Homo sapiens: one gene and its partners. The protein of the gene in region 1 interacts with the protein of each later gene in a biochemical or structural test. Each region holds a gene or a part of one and is shown in the gene's direction. Other genes may lie near its edges. The genes, in order: COL1A1, NID1, MMP2, PRELP, LAIR1, PDGFA and COCH.

Region 1 (3,951 bases):
ATCCCATACATCCCCAACACTGAGTCCAGGTACAACTGGAGAAGGGGCTTTATGCAGCTCCCAGAAAGACACCCCTTTAGCTAAGTGCCCTCCCTCCACCCAGGTTCTCTCTGGTTTGACTGTGCTGGGAAGGAGGGTCTCTAAGCAGCCCCTGGCCACAGCCATGGCAAACAAAACTCTTCTCTAAGTCACCAATGATCACAGGCCTCCCACTAAAAATACTTCCCAACTCTGGGGTGGAAGAGTTTGGGGGATGAATTTTTAGGGGATTGCAAGCCCCAATCCCCACCTCTGTGTCCCTAGAATCCCCCACCCCTACCTTGGCTGCTCCATCACCCAACCACCAAAGCTTTCTTCTGCAGAGGCCACCTAGTCATGTTTCTCACCCTGCACCTCAGCCTCCCCACTCCATCTCTCAATCATGCCTAGGGTTTGGAGGAAGGCATTTGATTCTGTTCTGGAGCACAGCAGAAGAATTGACATCCTCAAAATTAAAACTCCCTTGCCTGCACCCCTCCCTCAGATATCTGATTCTTAATGTCTAGAAAGGAATCTGTAAATTGTTCCCCAAATATTCCTAAGCTCCATCCCCTAGCCACACCAGAAGACACCCCCAAACAGGCACATCTTTTTAATTCCCAGCTTCCTCTGTTTTGGAGAGGTCCTCAGCATGCCTCTTTATGCCCCTCCCTTAGCTCTTGCCAGGATATCAGAGGGTGACTGGGGCACAGCCAGGAGGACCCCCTCCCCAACACCCCCAACCCTTCCACCTTTGGAAGTCTCCCCACCCAGCTCCCCAGTTCCCCAGTTCCACTTCTTCTAGATTGGAGGTCCCAGGAAGAGAGCAGAGGGGCACCCCTACCCACTGGTTAGCCCACGCCATTCTGAGGACCCAGCTGCACCCCTACCACAGCACCTCTGGCCCAGGCTGGGCTGGGGGGCTGGGGAGGCAGAGCTGCGAAGAGGGGAGATGTGGGGTGGACTCCCTTCCCTCCTCCTCCCCCTCTCCATTCCAACTCCCAAATTGGGGGCCGGGCCAGGCAGCTCTGATTGGCTGGGGCACGGGCGGCCGGCTCCCCCTCTCCGAGGGGCAGGGTTCCTCCCTGCTCTCCATCAGGACAGTATAAAAGGGGCCCGGGCCAGTCGTCGGAGCAGACGGGAGTTTCTCCTCGGGGTCGGAGCAGGAGGCACGCGGAGTGTGAGGCCACGCATGAGCGGACGCTAACCCCCTCCCCAGCCACAAAGAGTCTACATGTCTAGGGTCTAGACATGTTCAGCTTTGTGGACCTCCGGCTCCTGCTCCTCTTAGCGGCCACCGCCCTCCTGACGCACGGCCAAGAGGAAGGCCAAGTCGAGGGCCAAGACGAAGACAGTAAGTCCCAAACTTTTGGGAGTGCAAGGATACTCTATATCGCGCCTTGCGCTTGGTCCCGGGGGCCGCGGCTTAAAACGAGACGTGGATGATCCGGAGACTCGGGAATGGAAGGGAGATGATGAGGGCTCTTCCTCGGCGCCCTGAGACAGGAGGGAGCTCACCCTGGGGCGAGGTTGGGGTTGAACGCGCCCCGGGAGCGGGAGGTGAGGGTGGAGCGCGGCGTGAGTTGGTGCAAGAGAGAATCCCGAGCGCGCAACCGGGGAAGTGGGGATCTGGGTGCAGAGTGAGGAAAGCACGTCGAAGATGGGATGGGGGCGCCGAGCGGGGCATTTGAAGCCCAAGATGTAGAAGCAATCAGGAAGGCCGTGGGATGATTCATAAGGAAAGATTGCCCTCTCTGCGGGCTAGAGTGTTGCTGGGGCCGTGGGGGTGCTGGGCAGCCGCGGAGGGGGTGCGGAGCGTGGGCGGGTGGAGGATGAGAAACTTTGGCGCGGACTCGGCGGGGCGGGGTCCTTGCGCCCCCTGCTGACCGATGCTGAGCACTGCGTCTCCCGGTCCAACGCTTACTGGGGCAGGAGCCGGAGCGGGAAGACCCGGGTTATTGCTGGGTGCGGACCCCCACCTCTAGATCTGGAAAGTAAAGCCAGGGATGGGGCAGCCCAAGCCTCTTAAAGAGGTAGTCGGGCCGGTGAGGTCGGCCCCGCCCCGGCCCCATTGCTTAGCGTTGCCCGACACCTAGTGGCCGTCTGGGGAGCCGCTAGCGCGGTGGGAGTGGTTAGCTAACTTCTGGACTATTTGCGGACTTTTTGGTTCTTTGGCTAAAAGTGACCTGGAGGCATTGGCTGGCTTTGGGGGACTGGGGATGGCCCCGAGAGCGGGCTTTTAAGATGTCTAGGTGCTGGAGGTTAGGGTGTCTCCTAATTTTGAGGTACATTTCAAGTCTTGGGGGGGCCTCCCTTCCAATCAGCCGCTCCCATTCTCCTAGCCCCGCCCCCGCCACCCCACCTGCCCAGGGAATGGGGGCGGGATGAGGGCTGGACCTCCCTTCTCTCCTCCCTCGCCCTCCTCCTGTCTCTACCACGCAAGCCACTCCCCACGAGCCTGCCCTCCCGATGGGGCCCCTCCTATTCTCCCCCCGCCCTCCCCCTCTCACCCTGTGGTTTTTATTTCACTTGGCTTCAGCGCCAATGGGCTGAGGTTGGAGTTGGAAGCCACCGCGGACTAAAGCTTTGTTTAAATTCCTGAGAACTGGAAAGAGTTACAGCCTCCCTGGCCAGGCGCCTCGGCGCTGTCACCCGCGCTGATGAGGAGCAGGCGAGCTTTTAAGGATTTGAGGAAAGAAGAACGGGGGGAGGGGCGGGAAGTGAAAAATCCAAGTGTGCCTCTTAGACCCGGGGGAAAGGTGGTTAAGCTGGGGGTTGCAGTCACTACTGACAACGCCCCTCTTCCGCCTGTCCCAGTCCCACCAATCACCTGCGTACAGAACGGCCTCAGGTACCATGACCGAGACGTGTGGAAACCCGAGCCCTGCCGGATCTGCGTCTGCGACAACGGCAAGGTGTTGTGCGATGACGTGATCTGTGACGAGACCAAGAACTGCCCCGGCGCCGAAGTCCCCGAGGGCGAGTGCTGTCCCGTCTGCCCCGACGGCTCAGGTGCGGCTGCGCTCGGGGCCTGGGGCCTGGGGCCTGGGGCCTGGGGCCTGGGGCTGGGGCTGGGGGTGGTCGGCGCTCGCTGGCCCTCCGTGCTGGAGGCCTCTGCCGACGGGAGCAGCATTAGCAAACCTTGGCTCTAACGCGCGTCTCTTCGTCCCCTAGAGTCACCCACCGACCAAGAAACCACCGGCGTCGAGGTAATCTCCTGCCCTCGAATTTTGCCCCTGCGCGGCCCGTGACTCCTCACAGTCCTCCCTTCTCTAACCTGGCCTCTTGTTTCTTCTCCCCCAATCCCACAGGGACCCAAGGGAGACACTGGCCCCCGAGGCCCAAGGGTAAGCGTTGCACTCTGGGCTGTGGGGGGCTGCAGGTGGGCATGGCTCTCGGCCCCACGCTCACCCCGGCCCCGCCCTCTCCCCCTGCAGGGACCCGCAGGCCCCCCTGGCCGAGATGGCATCCCTGGACAGCCTGGACTTCCCGGACCCCCCGGACCCCCCGGACCTCCCGGACCCCCTGGCCTCGGAGGAGTAAGTGGAGAGGCCTTGTGTGTCCACTCTCCCCTGTTTTGTTTTTGTTTTTTGGCAGATGACATAATTTTATACTTTGAAATAATTTCAAACTTACAGAAAAGTTGCAAGAATCCTACAGGAAACTCTCACATACCCTTCACAGTTTGTGACATGTGCTTTATTAGTCTCTGTTTATGTATATGTATCTTTTTTTTTCTGAACTGTTTGAGCAAGTTGCTAACATCAGGCTCTTTTGCGCCTAAATACTTAGGTGTGTTTTTCCTAAAAACAAGAGCATTCTCTTAACTGACCTACACAATGATTAAATTCACTCTCTAATGTGCAGTCCGTATTCAAAGTTCACCGATGTCCCGATAATGTCCTTTATAGATTCCACCCCCCACCACCCCAA
Region 2 (3,500 bases), on another chromosome or scaffold:
AAGTGCTGGGATTACAGGCGTGAGCCACCATGCCCGGCCTTTTTTTTTTTTTTTTTTTTTTTTTTGAGATGGAGTCTTGCTCTGTTGCCCAGGCTGGAGTACAGTGGCACAATCTCAGCTCTCTGCAGCCTCCACCTCCCAGGTTCAAGCAATTATTGTGCCTCAGCCTCCCGAGTAGCTGGGATTACAGGCATGGGCCACCACACTGGCTAATTTTTGTATTTTTAGTAGAGATGGGGTTTCACCACATTGGCCAGGCTGGTCTCCAACTGCTGACCTCAAATGATCCACCCACCTCAGCCTCCCAAAGTGCTGGGATTACAGGTGTGTGCCACCGAGCCCGGCTGGAAGGATAGTTTCTGACTAGAGAAATTATTAATATGAAACGATAGGTTAAAATAACAAAGTACTCCTGAGGGATGCAAAGATAGAAAGGTAAAGCCCAGACTCTAGTTGGGGAGACAAGAATCATTTGGACCATGTGAGTGGTTCAAAACCCAAGTATTGTCATAACCCAGGGTTGGCCTCTCCGTGGGCGCAGTCATCAGGGACGGCTGGAAGGACCAGGCTGTAGAGCACGGACTTGCCCTTGAAGGAAGCAGGGTCTTTGAGTAGGTCAGGAACTCGTTGTTAGACCTGAAGTGACTTTTTAGGACAGGCCTCGATTTTCCCTTGGAAAAATAATTTCTCTCTACCATAACTTCACCTTTATAGGAAAATGAGGAAGAAAGAAACTTGAAGGGTCCCAAAGCACTTCATATAAATGGGAGGTATTTCAGGCTGGTGGTTCCTAAAGTGTGTACCACAAAACACCAGTCCTACAAGATACACCTTGAGGAAAAGGCCTTCTAGTTTGGGAAATGCTAAAACTATATCTCCCTCTTGGTGATTCACCCTGTTCACTCTGAAAAGTCCTGCAGTCAGGAAACTTGCAACTTGCCTAATACTACTTTTTTTGTTTTTGTTTTTGTTTTTGTTTTGAGACAGAGTCTTGCTCTGTCACCCAGGCTGGAGTGCAGTGGTGCCATCTTGGCTCATTGCAATCTCCACCTCCTGGGTTCAAGTGATTCTCCTGCCTCAGCCTCCCAGGTAGCTGGGACTAAGGGCGTGAGCCACCATTCCAGCCTTGCCGAATATTGTTTAACTGAGCAGTCTCCAAACCTGTGACCATACCTCTTCCCTTCCCCCGCTCCAAAAAAGATGCATTACATCCCACAGAGCACACTTTGGGAAAGTCTGTTAGGGGCCTGCATGACACATTTTGCTTGCCAACTGTTATCTGTCTGAGTGCCAAACTTGAAAACAGCTTAAATGTTAAGTGTCTCAGCTGCCTCCCTTTCACTTGGGTGATAAATGCCTAACCCATTGGTATGGATCCCTTGCTTGCCTCTTGGGCCTAATCTGTTCCACCTCCGCATACCCTTTGCAGCCGCTATACCAAATTACATGTAATTCCCTGACCTTGCCCTTGCTCTTTTTTTTTTATCCGCAGTATCTTGCACAGGCTGTCCTCTCTGTTTGGGACGTCCTCTCCCTGACCCCCCTACAGGTGGCAGCTTCCTCCTGCTTGTTCATTCAGACTGGGCCCTCCCGTGAGGCCTTGACCAACCACAGCCTCCTGGCATGGGATGCACTCCCACCGCTCCTGGCATGGGACGCTTCCTCTTACGGCTCCTGCAGCGCTTTGCAAATGTTTCGATTACAGAATCCAACCTCAGGTTTTGCAATGTTTTCTTCACATGTCAGCCTTCCCAAAGTGCTGGGATTACAGGCATGAGCCACCGCGCCCGGCATGTGCCTGCTCTTTCATACGTGACCTCATGTAGTCTTCCTCATTTCTGTGAAGGAGGTGGTTTTATCTCCATTTTACAGATGCAAACATCGAGGCTTAGGGAACTCAAGTATCACGCCCAAGTCACATAATAATGAGTAGAGCAAAGATTTGGATCCAGGTCTGTTTTCTCCCAAATCTCATGTTTTGTTTTGTTTTTTCTACTGTACGGTGCTTGGGTTCAATAAATGTTTGTTAAACGATGAATGCGGTTGAATATGTTAACAGCCATGGAAACAAAGTCTTTGGGTAAGAATTTCCTAAACTGCGTGAGATTTTAGGCCACCATCTGGAGGTACCATCTGTATAATTTTTGGTTAACCTTAGGGCCACAGTTATGCAGAAGATATTTATGAATTAATCAGAAAATGTCATGTTGACATAGCCTTAGGGATATTTCAGTGGAACTATCCCAGAATCCTAGGTTCTTGCTACAAAAGTCCTTCTTTTAGAATAAGGTGAGAATATTGCCATCGCTCTATAGCACTGTACGCTTTATAGATAGTCTGGCGAATAACACATTTTAAAATCTATCGATATTTTTCCGAGTAACTGAATTTTAACTCATCTTCACAGAGAAACACGTTCCAGGCTGTTCTAGCCTCCTCTGATTCCAGCTCCTATGCCATTTTCCTTTATCCTGAGGATGGTCTGCAGTTCCATACGACATTCTCAAAGAAGGAAAACAACCAAGTTCCTGCCGTGGTTGCATTCAGTCAAGGTTCAGTGGGATTCTTATGGAAGAGCAACGGAGCTTATAACATATTTGCTAATGACAGGGAATCAGTTGAAAATTTGGCCAAGTATGCTTTCTTTGTTCTTCAGTAGATTCTCCTCTTAATATTTTTTAATGTGGATAATGTAATGTGTATTATAGATCATTACCTAAAAATGTTCCTATGGATTTAAGTTTTGCATATAGTTTTTATATTATGAGATACTCTTTTTCTGATGAACTTAAGGAAATGTATTTTTAGAATGAACAGATATCCTATTTTTTAGATATCATCCTCATTTAAAATAGTTCTTTTTTTTTTTTTTTTTTTTTTTTTTGAGACAGAGCCTTACTCTGTTGCCCAAGCTGGAAGGCTGGAGTGCAATGGCACAATCTCGACTCACTGCAACCTCTGCCTCCCAGGTTCAAGTGATTCTCTCGCCTCAGCTTCCCAAGTAGCTGGGATTACAGGTGTGTGCCACCATGCCCAGCTAATTCTTGTATTTTTAGTAGAGACGGGGTTTCACCATGTTGGCCAGGCTGGTCTTGAACTCCTGCCCTCGGGTGATCTGCCCACCTCAGCCTCCCAAAGTGCTGGGATTACAGGCATGAAGTGCCGCGCCCGGCCTTAAGACAGTTTTTACCATTTTGTCTATAAACACTGTTAGAAATAAGGGTTATTCAAACCTATCTCCTTTGATCTCAAGGCTGAGAAAACCTTTTCCTTCACATTGACTAGGGGGAATATTCTTACAACAGAAATGGTGCTCTCAGGTTATGTTGTAGAATTTGACAAAAGAGGGAAAAGCCCAAATTGGATTTTGAAGATTAAAACCTTTCCTCTCCCATTATTCTTTAAAAACCAAGAGTGAATCCCCTAAAACCACCTTTTAATTTTATATCTTCAAATCTAGCTTGAATTCCTCTGCCCTTCACTTAGTGATGTGCTGGTAA
Region 3 (3,500 bases), on another chromosome or scaffold:
CCGCAGCGATGGCTTCCTCTGGTGCTCCACCACCTACAACTTTGAGAAGGATGGCAAGTACGGCTTCTGTCCCCATGAAGGTGAGCATCCACTCTAGTCCCCAAGACTTTCCACCCCAAGCCTCCAGCTTCCCGGGCTCCCCAGTGTGCTCTTCCCTCCACACTCTCCAGGACTGGCTGCCACTGCCAGTTAATGAGCATCCCTCCAACGTCCTTCACTCAGTTCCCCCCCATCCTGATCTGAGCCATTGCTGTTTCTCTCCCACCAGTACCATGATGAACGTAGTACTCTAATTAAATCAAGTTGATTTTTTTTAAGTTTCACCATTAGCAATCATTTAGGAAGTCACAGATTTGATTTGCTAATTATTTATTTCTAATATATATTGGAGTGAACTTAGAACTATTACAATGCCCAGTGGTTCTCTCTAGAACCAGTCTTTACACTTCAGTCAAGATTGATACTTCAAGGGCATGAGGAAAGGCTTGCTGGTAGCTGGAAACCTAGCAGTGTGATAGGGAGGCAGGACTCAGACCAGGGCTGGACTCAACCTGGTTTGCGTACTCCAACTGAGGAATTTCAGCTATTGCTCCTGCCTTGGTCCTGATGCTGCCTCTGCTAATGCGTGTGTGTGTGTGTGTGTGTGTGCCTGTGTGTGTGTGTGTGTGTGTGTGTGTGTGTGTGTGTGTGTGTCTGGGCACGGGGGCTATACTATCTGCCTCTCTTGGGCACTGTCTTTTTCTGCCTCCTGTCTAGCTTGTGTCTGCATCTCTGTGTCTTGATAAAGACTTTAGGCTTGACTCAGTATTTGTGTTTGTGTGCTTGTCAGTGCCTGAGATGCAACATTTCAGAGATTTTGAAGCCACATGGGGGAAATCTTTTAAAATGGGGTACAGATATTGACATACACACTCAATCCTTTTTAAAAATATCCTTGACACACTTAATAGTCATAAATCACAAAAAGACAATGTAACTTCATACTCTATGAAGTCATCATATTTGATAATTCTGCAGATTGAAAGCCCAGAAAACCTGGCGAAAATGGAAAAAAGTCTAAAAATTTTTAACACTATCTTCTTTCCCATGTCACAAAGACTCTATAGTCTACATAGACTAAAGACTGTCTTTTTGTCTGTAATTTTATGTCTGTGAATCTCCCTAACCCCACTGTAACTGAAAACTAAGCACCAACCATCTTGACAGAATGAAAGAAACAAAGAGCTAGTTAATTCCCTTCCTGTTTATGCTTTTACTACCAGAGCTAAACTTTATATTAAGTAAGAGTTTAAGCCATTCACCATTAATAAGTCAGACATTTTGAAATAAAAATATTTTTTGTATCTTGCGTTTCCCGGTAGGGATTACATGTGGCGTTAACCCTTCCCTGTGTCACCCCTCTGATAGGAACAGAAAGCTTTGGTGATAGTTAGATGTGGAAACAGCTGTATTTCATAAATTTGGGAAGGGTTATTCCCTGCATTGGACATTAGCCATTTACTTTGTGCTTAGCCAGATGCAAGTACGCACAACACGCACGTGTCTGGGTCTCGAGGCAGAGATTGTTGTTACTCAGCCCCTGCTGATGGCTGAGTCAGTGTCTGATTCTTGCCATCCTTGTCAGGGGAATTTGGGAGGAGACAGGGGCTTCCTGGGTGGTAGAAATGAGAGGTCAGAGGCAGGGGGCTGGCATTGGTCGAAGTTAACGCTTTGCCTTTCTCAACTCTGAGGCCACTAAGGTATCTGGACTCAGTCTTGCCTTTTCTCTAGGTGCCATTGTTTCTGGCATTGCAGGACAAGGTCTTTTGGTAGAGAGGGGAGTGGTGAGGATACAGGGCCTCGAGTTCTGTGGTGGGAGGCCAGGGACTGGGCTCCATTCCGGCCATGGTGGAGTTAACGGGGGCTGGTGAGGTCACCTCTGGCGCCGTTGTGCACAGATGGTCCTTGTTATGGACTTGTGGTTTTGCTGGTTGGCAATTCCAGAGACACCATTTTTTAGCTTTGGGTGGATGAGGGGAGGATGGGGAGAATCCAAGACAGACAGGCCAGGCTCTGAACCCCACTCCCTCCCCCAACTCTCCATTTATGGCCCCTGTCTTGAAGATGTCAAAGTAGGAGCCCAGAGTGTTTAGTAAAAGGGACCTGAAGGCACCACCTCCCTCTCCCTCCCTCCTCCTCTTCATTCTTTCTCTCCTTCCTACAGAGACTGCAACAAGGCCATCCAGGAAGGGGCCTGGGGTTGACAGGAGGTAAAGCAAGCTTTCTGTGTATGCGTGTGCACGCACACACACATATATGAGAGTGACAGACTAAGCAAGAGAGATTGAGATTAGTGTGTTTTGTAGTTTTTAGTTACAACCTTCATTCACTTCTTTCATTTCTGTGACCATGAGCAGTTTGAGAACCATCTTTGTCCTAGCCTTGATTTCTCCACCTATCAAATGGAGAGAGATTCTCGTGGTCCTGCCTGCCATGACTGATATATTCATGTCATACATCATTATTACATGAAATTTGCATGGTACAGGTGTGGACCAGGCAGAATGGACAGTGCCCTTGGGGCTGAGGCAGGGTTCTAGAAGCCCTTGCTGTGTGCCAGGTGTCAATCATTTTGTTGTTGGGTGGTCCACAAGGTCCCACGGGAGGGATTGGGATAACCAGGGAAGCAGGGGTTCTCTCTGGGAGCTCAGAGAAGCAGCTCCTTACCAACCAGTAGAGATGTTTTCTTAATATTTTAACAATGCATCAACTTCACTGGTGTGAACCGGCAGGTGGGCAGCCAGCCAGCCCTGTGCCCATGGAAGCATGTCTCATTCACATCCTTCCCTCTCTCCCCCACCCTTAGCCCTGTTCACCATGGGCGGCAACGCTGAAGGACAGCCCTGCAAGTTTCCATTCCGCTTCCAGGGCACATCCTATGACAGCTGCACCACTGAGGGCCGCACGGATGGCTACCGCTGGTGCGGCACCACTGAGGACTACGACCGCGACAAGAAGTATGGCTTCTGCCCTGAGACCGGTGGGTGCCACTCCCTCTCCCTCCCTCAGGGCCCAGCACCTGCTGTCTGACAAAAAAAAAACCCATAAGACTCCGAGTGCCCACCTCCTTTCCCCAAGACAGGGGTGCTAAGACATCTGTGCGAATGACATCCACACCAAGATGTCCGTGTAGCTAGTCAGGATACTTGTCACCTGGTATGGCCTGGGCACTGAAATCAGAACAGACATTGGGCATCAACAGTTGAATTGGTGACACTTAAATGTCAGGCCTGCTCAGGATCCTCTGACCGACCTGCATCCCTTTTCTCTCAGGCTCTCTGGCAGAGACTTCTCTCTCCTCCTCTCTGACCCTGCAATCTCTCTTCCCTGCCTTTCCTGGTCTGTATCTCCACCTTTTAGTCTGTTTTTTATTAAGAGCTCCGTGCTTTCCTCCCTGTCTCCTTCCTGCCCTCCTCTCTATCCCTCCCTCCTTTCCTTCTTCCCTTCCTCCAACAGGAATT
Region 4 (3,500 bases), on another chromosome or scaffold:
CCATAAGGCTCCTTTGTTATCTCAGGACCACATCAGCCCTAATGGGGGCCTTGAAAGGGCCTCAGGCTCACTCCTCTACTAACTCTGCTCATAAATTGGCAAAGACTGCTTGATTCTCCCTGCTTCCAACACCCTTCTGGACTACAGGAAGAGATACAGAGAGCAGGATGGCTTTCAGACACCTAGGTTGAGAACAGAAAGAAGGGAAAAAAGAGAGAGGGGTGTTCCGACATTCACCGGCACAGCGCTAGGTCAGAAGCAGCCCCATTCTCCACTGCAGGGTAGCTCTGGGTCAAGGCATGGAGGCTTAGGGGTGACCAATTAGACAGGAGATCTGACAAGTAAGAAGAATGCCAGTTCAGAGTGCGGCGTAACCCTGCTGCTAGCCCTGCCTAGCCCTGGGAGACAAACCCAACCTCATTCCCAGCCCAACCTCAACCTCTCCATACAAAGCCAATTAGCCTTAAATAGCTGCTCCTAATGACTTGACCAACCCATCAGGACTTCCACCCAACCCTGCCCTGAGCAGAAACATTCCACCACTCCTGGGTTTTAACATTAAATTAATGAGAGAGATAGGGAAGGGGGCTATCTCACTTTAAAAATCAAGGAGTCCTTGGGGCGCTGTGGCTCATGCCTGTAATCCCAGCACTTTGGGAGACTGAGGAGGACAGATCACTTGAGCTCAGGGGTTGGAGACCAGCCTGGGCAACATGGTAAAACCCCATCTCTACAAAAAAGACAAAAATTAGCCAGCTGTGGTAGCACATGCCTATAGTACTAGCTGCTCAGGACGCTGAGATGGAAGGATCACCTGAGCCCAGGGAGGTTAAGGCTGCAGTGAGCTGTGATTGCACTACTGCACTCTAGCCTGGTCAACAAAGGGAGACCCTGTATCACCAAAAAAAAAAAAAAAAAAAAAAAAAAAAAATCAAGGAGTCTCTCTAGAGAATCTGCTGTTTATAAACAAATAAATGAGTAAGTAAGCCTCTGCCACTTGCAGAGATTTTGCACTTTATAACATGCCTTCAAATGCATGATCTCATTTGATCCTCACACAGATGAGGAGCCCGGGTTGGAGAGTCAGAGCCAGGAGTCAAGCCCAGATCCACAATAGTTGGAATTGAAATTAGAATTTAAAACTCTCTTAGAGGCTGGGTGCAGTGGCTCACACCTGTAATCTCAGCAATTTGAAAGGCCGAGGTGGGAGGATTGCTTGAGCTTAGGAGTTCAAGACCAGCCTGAGCAATACAGTGAGACCCCCATCTCATTTTTGTTTAAAGTGAAAAAAGAAAAAAAAATTAAGATTCTCTTAGGAAACGTTCTTTAATGTGGAGAGTGAATGTTGGGTTGGGCAAAGCAATTGCCTTTCTCTTCCGTGAAGCAGCAGCTTTTCCAGAACTGATGGTGGAGAGCAGAACTGCATGCAGTTGGCTGTTGTAGGTGGTCAACAAACCTTCACTGATTGAGCAATGAGCAGAGCCCAGTAGAAAGCTGTGGGTGGAGAAGTGCACTTGTGAAAGCATAAGAAAAATTTAAAAACACACACATGGACCCATCCTAAGGAATCTTATGATTGGACAGAAGTTTCTAGAAGGCAGGAGCATAGAGTGTGGGTCTGAGGCTTTGTAGGAGGGACTATGACTACCCATGGAGTCCAGGTACCCTCAGTCTGTCACACAGATTCTGGTTTCAGAGACCTAGGACATCACGGAGCACTGCCAGAGAGAATGGCTGTGCTGTCAGCTGTCAGAACTTTTCATCCTGCCTCATGGCAAAGCTCCGGCAGGAAGGGGCATCACCCCATGAGAAAAGCCTTAGAAATGAATGCTATTTCCTTAAGAGAGAAGCATCCCTGCACTTGGAATGGTTCTGATTCAGCCCTGGGGCTGAGGGAAGGGGAGGAGAGCAGGCTCAGCTTCCCCACATAACTTGCTCCTGGGAGCATTTCCTGGGGAACCTCCTGTTGGCTCTGGGAGCAGCTTGGCTAGGCCCAGAGGTTTGGAATGTAAACGGGTCAGAGGACTAGTGAAAAGATAAGTTCCCAAAGGGTCTGGTGCTGCACATGGGGATGAGGAAGGCCTGTGTTTACTGTGGATGAGAAGGCGCGCACAGCCAGCCTGCTGGGTGGAGCTGTGAGTAACCTGCCTGTTCCTCTCACCCCTGACAATGAAGACCAGGGCTGCCCTGGCACTGAGCCAAGGAAACCCCGCCCCGCCCAGCACAGGTCACAGCCACAGTGCCTCACTGCTTTTGCTGGAAGCCCTGGGCAAATTGGTGCCCAGTCCCTGGCATATGCTTTCGGTGACAAAGGCAATGAAGGGATATAGAAAAACTCCCGCCAGTGCTGGGAGCCTCCTTGGGACAGGGCTTCTCACAGTATGAAAGATTTCTAGATCATTTCTAGGCTTCTGGGTGATTAGAAAATAAATTTTTTTTTTTAAATCAGGGTCACAAAAATTGAGGCTTTTAGAAATGTTTGTTTTAGAATACCAATGCTTTAACTACCCCCTTAATTTATATGCAAGATGACTGTTCTGTTTTCCAGAAAATTACAGAACTTACACAATGTTAATTCATAGTTCACCAATTACAAGTGAAGTGGGGTTCAGCCAACAAGACTCAAGCTTAAAGTTTTGCAATTAATGCCTTCTCTTTTTAACCCTTGCAATGTATCTCTGACAATGTTATATCCTTAACGGGAGATCAAGCCAAAAACCTAACTGCAAGGTCCTTTGTGATAGGAGGCCAGGGAAAATGGCCTTCCAGACCTCCTTGGAGAGGCCTGCCTTGGAAGAGACCACCTTAGAGGGAGGTGGAGAAAGACAGTCTCTGCCTTCCTTCCCTTCCGCCTTCCTTCTTTCCTTCCAATACTCAGTGTACTGCGTATGGGCTCATATACGCACACAGAGGATAAGTGAGTGAGTTTGCTTATGTGCATGGGACCTGAAGAGGTGTGTGTGTGAGTGTGCAGACTGGATCTGCTGTTAAACAGCATCTTGGCCTTGGCGAGCCACTTCTTCCTTCCAGTCCTCAGTTTTTGCAAATGGTGGGGTCTGGAGTTGATTGGTGGATTTCAAGCCATTTTTAGCAAAGAAACGTGTCCCCTGCCCCTCAACAAATGAATGCTTCGGCTAAACCTCAATATATATAATAGGTTTTTTTAAAGAGAGCTGCTGAGGTTGGCACAGGGATGGGTTGAGGGTACCCCAGGGCCATCTCCTCAGTCTCCTCCCCACAGGGGTATGTCACAGAAATGAAAGCAGAGTTGGAAAACCACTAGGTTATAGGATCTTTAAGGACCTTTCTGGATTTAACCAGGACGCTAAGGTTCATACATCCTAACATCCCTCTCATGAAGACACTGATGATTTTCTCATGCTGTGAATGGGAGGACTGAGGGCCAGAGTGGTTAAGGGTCTTCTCTGACAAGCCCCAGGACTCCTGACTCGGAGTCCAGTGTGCTTTCTTTCTTTCTTTTTTTTTTTTTGAGAAAGAGT
Region 5 (3,500 bases), on another chromosome or scaffold:
TTATATATGTTTACATCATAATATATATATATATTATATATATATTATATATATAAGGAAGATAATTATATAATAAAACATGTTAGTGTATCACTACATATGACTATAGTGTATATTATATATTATATGAAAGATATATTTACAATATATAGTATAATAAATTTCAAGTGTTATAGTTAATAAATAAATATAGGTATTAATGTAAATATATTATCTATTATGTATACATTATGTATAACTATAATAGAAAAAATATTTTATATTTAATCATAGGTTTATATCAAATATAAATTATACATTATATATTATAGTGAATATATGTAACATATATTATAAGTTATAAATCATATACAATTAACATTATATACATTAAATTATATGTATATGTCAAGATTACATAATTAAAAATATATTTGTTATATATTATACATTTGCATAATACATGATACATATAACTATAAATAATATAAAAACTGTAATATTGCACATATATAATACATATGTAATTTTAAATGGTGGCAAATGTTATGAAGACCAAGCCCAGGAAGTCATGGTGTAGAATAACGGGTGGTGTCCTGGACCTTAGACCGTGGACGAGGCAGGAGGGAAGGACATTCCAAGAGAGAATGTCTGCCTTTCTTGAAGGATATTGAAGATGCTGCCTCAGCCCCGGGGGAGGGGAGGGACCGCTGTTCCTGGAAGAGGGACGCTTGGCTCGGACCCTGGGTTTGGGGGAGCCCCTCAGGACCCCATTTAGCCACCTGGGAATTGGGTAGTGGCGTGCACTGTGCAGAGGAGGGTGAAGGTTGGAGGAGATGACGGGCGGGCCTGCAATGCGCTGCGTAGGGAGCCTGGGCGGTGCCCCACACACTCGCCCGCTAGCTGCAGGGCTTCAGGAAAGAGGAGCACATCGGGACTTGGATTCTTCCCACAGGAGGGCGGGTTACATCCCCGTCAGAGGGTTGCCGGGAGGGCAGATAAAATCAGACATGAGGATTCTTGCCCTCTGGTGGGAACCCAGAAGGAGGTCAGGGAGGGAAGGTCTCCCTTCCTCTTGTTGCGGGTGGTTGGTCTCTGCCTAGATCCGCAGAGGGCAGAAATTAGCGATGTCTACTACAGCTTCACGCCCAGGAAACGCGCTGTATCTGCACCGTCCAGTAGGGATGGCATCAGGCCCGTGGGGTCACTGAGTCCTGGAGGTGCAGACGGTGCAGCCAGCTTCTCATGCCATTCAACTTTGGATAAATTTAAATATCAATAGCTATGTGTGACTCTCATGCTGGACAGTAGATGTAGAAAGTTTCCATCATCACAGAAGACTCTGCTGGTCGGTGCTGGTCTAGAGGGAGCAGTCAGGGTCCTGGGGAGTGAAGGGAGATCCCCACAGTGGATGTGGGAGGACTCAGAGCCTTCTCTGTCCAGCTCAGGACTCTAACTCCTCCTCCTTCTGATTCCTCCCTCCCAGGACCCACGCAGAGGCCGTCGGACAACAGTCACAATGAGCGTGAGTGATGGGGGCCGTGGAGCATGAAGCTGGTGTGTGCCTCTTGGGGAAGGAGAAAGAGGTCAGGCTTTGGGGTTGATCAGATTCCTGCTCTGCCAATGGCAGTCTGTGTCCCTGTGCAGAGGACTCCAGCACTCAGGACCCCGGTGGTGGAAGAAGGGGATAACGATCCCTGTACTGCAGGACTATTATTTACCTAAGATATTTTATATATTAGTAAGTCTATGAAACGCACGTGACGTGTGTGTGGTATACAGTAGGTGCTCAATAAATGCACACTGCTGAAATCCTGTTTCTGTCTTTCTTAGATGCACCTGCTTCCCAAGGCCTGAAAGCTGAGCATCTGTATATTCTCATCGGGGTCTCAGTGGTCTTCCTCTTCTGTCTCCTCCTCCTGGTCCTCTTCTGCCTCCATCGCCAGAATCAGATAAAGCAGGGTAGGTCTCAGGGGCAGGGTGGGGTGACCTGGGAAGCTGTCAGGAGAGGCTAGGAAGAAGGTCTCCTTAATTCACACCCCGACTGTCCTTAGGGCCCCCCAGAAGCAAGGACGAGGAGCAGAAGCCACAGCAGAGGTGAGGCCCCTGGGAATGACTCCTGGACCTCCACCCAGTCCTCGGCCGCCAGGCTGCCCCTGAGGTTCACTTTTATTTTTCCTCTTAGGCCTGACCTGGCTGTTGATGTTCTAGAGAGGACAGCAGGTAAAGGGGGAGGAGGAGGGACAGGCCTGGGATGGGGAAGTGGGGACTTGGTGCCAATCCAGATGCAATGTGGGGGGTGGGGGGAAGAATCTTTGGGAACATTCTAGAAGGTCGTATTATACATTGGGTGCAGGATGTCATCGGAAGCTGGGGGTGGGGGTCTCAGGCAGATTTGCCTTGCGACATCCTCCCCAGAAAACTGACCATGTATTTTCTCCCCAAGACAAGGCCACAGTCAATGGACTTCCTGAGAAGGACAGAGAGACGGACACCTCGGTGAGCCTTCCTACTAGTTATTAAAGTACCCCAAATTTAGCAGCTTAAAAAAATCTCAGTTCCTTGGGTTAGGAATTCAGGAGTGGCTCAGCTGGGCGGTTCCGGCTCACGGCCTGTCCTGAGGTTGCTGTCGAGAGGTCGCCCAGGGCTGTGTGCATCCGAAGGCTCCCGTGGGCTGGAGGATCCACGTCCAAGACGCTCACTTCCCCGGCTGTGGGCAGGAAACCTCTGTTCCTCTCACAGGGGCCTCTCCACACAGCCGGCTTCCCCCAGAGGGAGGGATCCAAGGATGGGTGGCAGGGAGGGGACAGAAGCACCATGTCTTTTGGCTCAGCTTGGAAGTCAGGAGTCTTCCCTTCTGCCTTGTTCATTGTCACGTAAACCAACCCCAATACCCTGTGGGAGGGCTCTTCACACGGATGCAATTTAGGAGAGGGTCCTCAGGGCCCATGGAGATGGCCGCCACAGCCCTCCCTCCCCACAGCCCCTCGTCTCACCCTCCACCAGGCACTCCCTCACCCTGGGTCTCTCCCTCTTAGGCCCTGGCTGCAGGGAGTTCCCAGGAGGTGACGTATGCTCAGCTGGACCACTGGGCCCTCACACAGAGGACAGCCCGGGCTGTGTCCCCACAGTCCACAAAGCCCATGGCCGAGTCCATCACGTATGCAGCCGTTGCCAGACACTGACCCCATACCCACCTGGCCTCTGCACCTGAGGGTAGAAAGTCACTCTAGGAAAAGCCTGAAGCAGCCATTTGGAAGGCTTCCTGTTGGATTCCTCTTCATCTAGAAAGCCAGCCAGGCAGCTGTCCTGGAGACAAGAGCTGGAGACTGGAGGTTTCTAACCAGCATCCAGAAGGTTCGTTAGCCAGGTGGTCCCTTCTACAATCGAGCAGCTCCTTGGACAGACTGTTTCTCAGTTATTTCCAGAGACCCAGCTACAGTTCCCTGGCTGTTTCTAGAGACCCAGCTTTATTCACCTGACTGTTTCCAGAGACCCAGCTAAAGTCACCTGCCTGTTCT
Region 6 (3,044 bases), on another chromosome or scaffold:
AGTTGTGTTCCCGTGACAGGGCCTATATGTGCATTATGTGTGTGTGTGTGTGTGTGTGTGTGTGTGTGTGTGTGTGTGATTTCTTGCCTCTCTTGTTGAATGCCTGAAGCTCCCCTCTCTGGCCTGGACTGGGCCATTGTCTGCCTGCAGCTCCCCGGGGAAGGGGCTGTGGAGGCAGGACCCCCATGTTGTGGTTTTGTGCCTGGAGAATTGAGGGCAGGCGTGGCTCGCAGACAGGCAAAGTCCAGTCCGAAGAGGGGAACCCAGCTGAGGTCTGGTTCGCTTTTGAGCTGCCTGTGCCTGATAGCCACGGCCTGCTGGCCTGTGCTCCTCCTGGATCATCTTGTGTAGCCTCGGTGATGGCCCAGGATCCCTGGCCCTGGTTTCCGAGGTCAGGCCTCTCCGAGCCCAAGGAGAGCCTCGGACCTGGGGGAGCCATGAGGGGACCCTGGGTATGGGTCTGCTGGCCCTGCTGCCTGGGGCCGGCGGGGAGGTGGGGCCCTCATCAGGCCAGCAGCTGGGATTATCATCTGGACGCTCAAGTCCACAGCAACCTTGGGCTAGGATACAGCCACGAACCCCCCATTCCTAGGCCATGGCTTTAAATTTTTTTTTAATATTAATAGAGACAGGGTCTTGGTGTATTGCCCAGGCTGGAGTGCAGTGGTGTGATACCAGCTCACTGCAGCCTCAAACTCCTGGGCTCAAGCGATCCTCCTACCTCAGCCTCCCAAGTAGGCTGGGACTACAGGTGCCACCATGGCTTGCTAATTTTTAAATTGTTTTTAGAGGCAGGGTCTTACTATGTTGCCCAGGCTGGTCTTGAACCCCTGGAGTTAAGTGATCCTCCCGCCTTGGCCTTCCAAAGTGCTGGGATTACAGGCGTGAGCCACCATGCTCAGCCTGGCTTTTAAAATGTATTTAAAAACAACGTGATCATTTGAAAACATTTCCCAGCTGCACATCCACACACAAGCAAACACTTTCCCTGGCCACCTGCACCCCAGAACTCCCAAACTTCCACACCTTAGCAGTGTGCATCCTTCAGCCCCCCCAGGCACACGTGAACCTTTGGGTTTATTTTAAACAAAAATAGGATGAGTCTGCTAAATACCATGCTCCAACACCAGGCGCGGCGGCTCTCACTTGAAGTTCCAGCACTTTGGGAGGCTGAGGCAGGAGGATCACTTGAGTCCAGGAGTTCAACATCAACCTCGGCAACATAGCGAGATCTCATCTCTTCCACACAAAAAAAATATTTAAAATTAGCTGGGCATGGTGGCCTGTGCTTACAGGTGGGAGGCTGAGGTGGAAGGATCACTTGAGCCCAAGAGCTTGAGGCTGCAGAGGCTATGATTGGCCTAGGTGACAGGGTGAGACCCTACTCAGAAAAAACTAAAACACACACACACAAAACTGCACTGCAGCTTGTAGGTTTTTCACCTGGTACTGCTACACTCCCCACCACAAGGTAGTGTTTCTGGGAGGAGGTCAGGGGTCAGGCTGCTCTCTCCTCCCTCTCAGCCTGTCCCCGGCTCCCAGCACGTCGTGATGTCCGAAGCTCCATGCAGGCATTCATGGCCGGGCTCTGTTCTCTCTGGCAGGTGGCCAAGGTGGAATACGTCAGGAAGAAGCCAAAATTAAAAGAAGTCCAGGTGAGGTTAGAGGAGCATTTGGAGTGCGCCTGCGCGACCACAAGCCTGAATCCGGATTATCGGGAAGAGGACACGGGTGAGTGGCTGCCTTCGTCGGCATCGGTGTTGGAGAACAGGTCTTCAGAGCCTTGCTTTTGGGGTGTTAGGTGGCCCCCTTGAGCGCAACGCTTACTGCTGTGAGCATCTGGGCTGCTGTTGAAGGATTCGTTGCCCTGCTCCCGGGCCAGATGCCTGCGGGGGAGACGGATCCCACACCTGCAGGTGTCCGGTGGGGAGGGTGGCCCAAGCTGCGGCACTGGCAGGAGAGGAGATTCAGGTCTCACTGAGAGGGGCTGGGAGTGCATAAGACACCCAATTCATTAGTGGGCTGCGGGGCTGAGCTGAGAAGAATCTGCAGAAGGGCCTCCTGCCAGGGTGGGCGGGAGGAGCAGGTTCGAGGACTGCAGTTGCCCTGGCTGGCTGGGGTCTCTCCTTCACCCCGCCACGCGGACTCCACCCAGGAGCAGAATGGCTTCTGTGCCCTGCTATGGCTGGGCCCTGGGAGCATGAGGGGACTCAGAAGTTTCTCGGTGCCAGGGTGCTGGCCTTCTCTTCTGGAAAGATAAACAAATGCCGTAGGTATTTGTTGCTTCAGTTCTTCACCCCGACGGCCGTCCCTCGGCCCACTCACCGCCCTGCCCTTTTGTTAACAGGAAGGCCTAGGGAGTCAGGTAAAAAACGGAAAAGAAAAAGGTTAAAACCCACCTAAAGCAGCCAACCAGGTAGGACTGTCTGCCGGACACACTGAGTCCTGCAGGGCGGGGAGGTGCAACTGACTGATCACACCAGCAAATCACGCTTCCTGTCTCGCCGGGTGCGGCGGGGATGTGGCCCTGATTGGCCTTGATGGTGTCTGCTGGGCTTGGGTCTCCTTGCTCCCCGTCCGCTCCTGCCTCGCAGAACGCCCTGGCCCGTGGCTCACTCCCGCTTGGGAGCCTGCCTCCAGCTTTGTCCTTCTCTTTGTCGTTGATTGGGGATGCAGGAGCATTGCACATGAATGGAACAGGTTGGGCGACCTGAGCAGCGGTGGGGCAGCTCTGAGCGCCTGGCCACTCTGGGATCACCCACCCCATTTGACAGATGAAAAAACTGAGGCTTAACTGAGATTACAGATAAGGACTGTTGGAGGCTGAATATATCTGGAAATCCTTTATAAACGTGCAGGGCTGTTGGCTACTGTGTTGGAAATTGCATTTGGCTGCTAGTAACACCAGACAGCACAGGGATTGAGATAAGATCGAGCTTCATGACTTTCATCTAAGGGTGGGATTGCAGAGCAGGGAGGGTAGTCTTGAGGTATCATCAGTGTCCGCCTTCTGTCTGGCTAGTGGCATCCATCTGCAGTTGCCT
Region 7 (3,500 bases), on another chromosome or scaffold:
ACAAAAATTAGCCAGATGTGGTGGCATGCACCTGTAATCCTAGCTACTTGGGAGGCTGAGGCAGGAGAATCACTTGGACTCGGGAGGCAGAGGTTACAATGAGCCGAGATTGCACCACTGCACTCCAGCCTGGGCAACAGTGAGACTATGTCTCAAAAAAAAAAAAAAAAAAGAAAAAAATCAAATGAGAGGAGATTTGAATGAGTCTTGAATGATGACAAATGATCAGTTCTTTTAGTGGGTACATGTCAGTTCAGTATAAACATTTGAGTTATGGACACACTGGGTTCCCAAACTGTAAGTTCAGGATCTAAGACTGCCTGGGCAGACTGAGTAGATCTGAGTGCCTCCTTTTTGGAATAAAAGAATTTAGAAAACTGTGTGCTATCTATATAAGAACCAGAAGGTAGACTGGAGAGTCCTGTTGCTTACACAAGTCACCTCTGCTTATCTACTCTGCTCAATTCCTAATTTCTCTCTTCTGAAGGAAGAAGCAGTGATATGTCTATTCCACCTCCCTATTCTGTTATTCTTTTTAGCTCTTTCCATATTCTCTTGGTTGGTGATCTGAAGCACGACCTTTCTATTTTATTCATTTAAAAATATTTATTAATTGCTGGCCAGGTGCGGTGGCTCACGCCTGTAATCCCAGCACTTTGGGAGGCCGAGGCGGATGGATCACGGGGTCAGGAGATTGAGACCATCCTGGCTAACACGGGGAAACCCCGTCTCTACTAAAAATACAAAAAAAAAAAATTAGCCGGGCGTGGTGGCAGGCGCCTGTAGTCCCAGCTACTCGGGAGGCTGAGGCAGGAGAATGGCGTGAACCCAGGAGGTGGAGCTTGCAGTGAGCCAAGATCGTGCCACTGCACTCCAGCCTGGGCAACAGAGCAAGACTCTGTTTCAAAAAATAAAAATAAAAATAAATAAATAAATAAATATTTATTTATTAATTGCTTTTAGAAATAGAATATGCTCATTATAGAAAGCTTGAAAATACATAGAGCACAAAAAAAGAAATGCTCTAAATCATATGCCCTAGAGATAATCACTATAAAATGGTTTTTTTTTTTTTTTTTTTTTTTTTTTGAGACGGAGTTTTGCTCTGTCACCGAGGCTGGAATGCAATGGCACGATCTTTGTTCACTACAACCTCTGCCTCCTGGATTTAAGTGATTCTCCTGCCTCAGCCTCCTGAGTAGCTGGGATCACAGGTGTGCACTACTACGCCTGGCTAATTTTTGTATTTTTAGTAGAGACAAGGTTTCACCATGTTGGCCAGCCTGGTCTCGAGCTCCTGACCTCAGGTGATCCACCTGCCTCGGACTCCCAAAGTGCTAGGATTACAGGTGTGAGCTACCACGCCTGGCCCCTTCAGTATTTTAAGGAAATATTTGACTGTATTATTTTTTAAAAACTCAGACTATTAAAAATGCCCTGCATCCTGTTTTTTTCATCCTTTAGTATTTTTAGCATTTTCTCATATCACAAATATTCATCAAAAATATTTCATAATATTCCGCTGCATGATTAGTCATTCTTATTATTTCTTCACTACATTACACACTACACTGTGATGAACATCCTTATATCATCTTTGTGCCCATCTCTGATTATTTCATCAGGTTAGATTTCTAAAAGTGAGGTTCTGACTTAAAGCCTCTGATATAAATAGTGAAATTGAGCCATGCACAGTGGCTCATGCCTGTAGTGCCAGCTGCTCAGGAGGCTGAGGTGTGAGGATCTCTCAAGCCCAGGAGTTCAAAGCTGCAGTGAGCTATGATGGCACCACTCTACTCCAGCCTGGACAACAGAGAAAGACCCCATCTCTAAAAAAACAAATAAATAGCGAAATTGCTTCCTAGAAAGGTGAAGTAGTTTAAACTACTATCAGCAGTGTGTAAGGTTGTATAAACAGTGCTATTACAAATATTAATTTCCATTTCATTTCTGTTATTTTTTACAAGTGGCTCTGCTCTTAGATTAGATAGAATTTTTTTGGCATGAGAAGAAAATTTAACTGTTTTAACATAATTTAACCATTTGTCTCTCACCCTTAAAAAAAATGTGTTCCTTGTTTCATTGACTTATGGTATCACATTTATACCTGAGTTTGAGCAAGTCTATTTCTTTGATTCATATGCTAATCCTTACATATTTTTTTCTACGCTGCTTTGATTATCACAGTTTTATTGCACATTTTAACATCCCATGAGGCAAATTCCCCTGCAGTACTTTTTGTCTTGTACTTTTTTCTGACTACTTTGACCCAATTCTTTTTGAAGATGAATTCTTCATTACCTTGTAGACTCATACAAAGTTTTGTAGTTTTTCTGTTTTAGAAAGACCATTAGAATAGGTAAACCATGTCAAGTTTATATGTATGTAAGTCAAAGAACAGAATATATCAAGGATACAAAAATGAGACTAATTTCATAAGTCATAATCTGGATAGTTGAAAAGTGACCACAAGTGAAAAGGTTTTCAACCCATGAAATCTGATTTTATGACCCAATATTCCATCAGGTATGTATGCAGAAATACAGTCAGTGTTCTACTTCTCCCTCAAAAAATCTTGAATAAAATGGCTACTGATAATGCTAAGATCTTAAATTTTGCACTAGGAAATACTGACTCATCTAGAAACTAAACACAACAGATTGTGCTGTGGTTGTTTATACTCAAAACGGTCTCTGCTGAACACAGAGTAGTTATATAAAAGTGAGCTGAAATTCCTTTAATATTAAATATAGGAAATGAGATCTCAAAACTCTTACAATACACATAATTTTAAGGTGCACAAATGTCATTGTCATTATAAGAAAAACTCAATATTGTAACTTTATAATTCATTTCACCTTTGTCCCTTTAAAAAAATGTTGACGGTCACATCAATGAAATTGTTTCTCCTGAACAGAGAGCTCTGAGTTAATAGATCCACACTACTTAGAGCCTCTGGGGTCCCACACTGGAACAGACCCTAGTCTCATACCCAGCCACTTCCTCATTTAGTTTAGCTACCTGGTGCCCAACTCTGCGGACTTCTGTTAAACCCGAGGCTCTGAGCCAAGCCCGATTTCAAGTTCTCCGTATAGTTTAGGCATGGACTTTGCAGCCAGACAACTTGAACTTAAAATGCAGCTGTGTTTCATCAGGCAAACTCCCTAAATGCTCTGAGACTCAGTTTCTTCATTTACATAATTGGGATAATTCCAACCTTATAGAGCTATGATGAAATGAGGTTTTACATGTGTTATGCTTTTGGCTTATTACCCAGAATATAATAAATCCTCAATATGGCAATTATTTGTTACACCTCTGAAATATCTCCAATAATTCAAGTAAGGATGCAATGCCTCAGTTGACTATGTACTATGGAATTAAGAAAGAAACTTGTGTGTTGTCTGGTTTTAAAACTGTTTTTTAAGGCATGTAATGTTGCTTATTTTACCTTTTTAATTCTCCCTGAATAACATTTTCTTTCTTCCACTCAGTGAACA

The links.
Region 2: the proteins of COL1A1 (region 1) and NID1 form a complex in vitro, tested with the Homo sapiens proteins (one study listed by BioGRID).
Region 3: the proteins of COL1A1 (region 1) and MMP2 form a complex in vitro, tested with the Homo sapiens proteins (one study listed by BioGRID).
Region 4: the proteins of COL1A1 (region 1) and PRELP form a complex in vitro, tested with the Homo sapiens proteins (one study listed by BioGRID).
Region 5: the proteins of COL1A1 (region 1) and LAIR1 form a complex in vitro, tested with the Homo sapiens proteins (one study listed by BioGRID).
Region 6: the proteins of COL1A1 (region 1) and PDGFA form a complex in vitro, tested with the Homo sapiens proteins (one study listed by BioGRID).
Region 7: the proteins of COL1A1 (region 1) and COCH interact in a biophysical measurement, tested with the Homo sapiens proteins (one study listed by IntAct).

Annotation. Positions count from the first base shown.
Region 1 is NC_000017.11:50,198,832-50,202,782, reverse strand, and holds the start of COL1A1 (collagen alpha-1(I) chain preproprotein), read left to right. Parts: upstream 1-1,151; 5' UTR 1,152-1,269; coding exon 1,270-1,372; intron 1,373-2,835; coding exon 2,836-3,030; intron 3,031-3,192; coding exon 3,193-3,227; intron 3,228-3,329; coding exon 3,330-3,365; intron 3,366-3,455; coding exon 3,456-3,557; intron 3,558-3,951. UniProt on the Homo sapiens protein: Type I collagen is a member of group I collagen (fibrillar forming collagen).
Region 2 is NC_000001.11:236,044,591-236,048,090, reverse strand, and holds part of NID1 (nidogen-1 precursor), read left to right. Parts: intron 1-2,407; coding exon 2,408-2,634; intron 2,635-3,500. UniProt on the Homo sapiens protein: Sulfated glycoprotein widely distributed in basement membranes and tightly associated with laminin. Also binds to collagen IV and perlecan. It probably has a role in cell-extracellular matrix interactions.
Region 3 is NC_000016.10:55,485,698-55,489,197, forward strand, and holds part of MMP2 (72 kDa type IV collagenase isoform 1 preproprotein), read left to right. Parts: coding exon 1-80; intron 81-2,845; coding exon 2,846-3,019; intron 3,020-3,500.
Region 4 is NC_000001.11:203,478,806-203,482,305, forward strand, and holds part of PRELP (prolargin precursor), read left to right. Parts: intron 1-3,500. UniProt on the Homo sapiens protein: May anchor basement membranes to the underlying connective tissue.
Region 5 is NC_000019.10:54,354,932-54,358,431, reverse strand, and holds part of LAIR1 (leukocyte-associated immunoglobulin-like receptor 1 isoform a precursor), read left to right. Parts: exon of another isoform or gene 1-96; intron 97-1,465; coding exon 1,466-1,504; intron 1,505-1,812; coding exon 1,813-1,941; intron 1,942-2,033; coding exon 2,034-2,076; intron 2,077-2,164; coding exon 2,165-2,202; intron 2,203-2,425; coding exon 2,426-2,478; intron 2,479-3,017; coding exon 3,018-3,164; 3' UTR 3,165-3,500. UniProt on the Homo sapiens protein: Functions as an inhibitory receptor that plays a constitutive negative regulatory role on cytolytic function of natural killer (NK) cells, B-cells and T-cells.
Region 6 is NC_000007.14:499,803-502,846, reverse strand, and holds part of PDGFA (platelet-derived growth factor subunit A isoform 2 preproprotein), read left to right. Parts: intron 1-1,604; coding exon 1,605-1,731; intron 1,732-2,347; coding exon of another isoform or gene 2,348-2,403; exon of another isoform or gene 2,404-2,416; intron 2,417-3,044.
Region 7 is NC_000014.9:30,881,059-30,884,558, forward strand, and holds part of COCH (cochlin isoform b precursor), read left to right. Parts: intron 1-3,451; exon of another isoform or gene 3,452-3,494; coding exon 3,495-3,500. UniProt on the Homo sapiens protein: Plays a role in the control of cell shape and motility in the trabecular meshwork.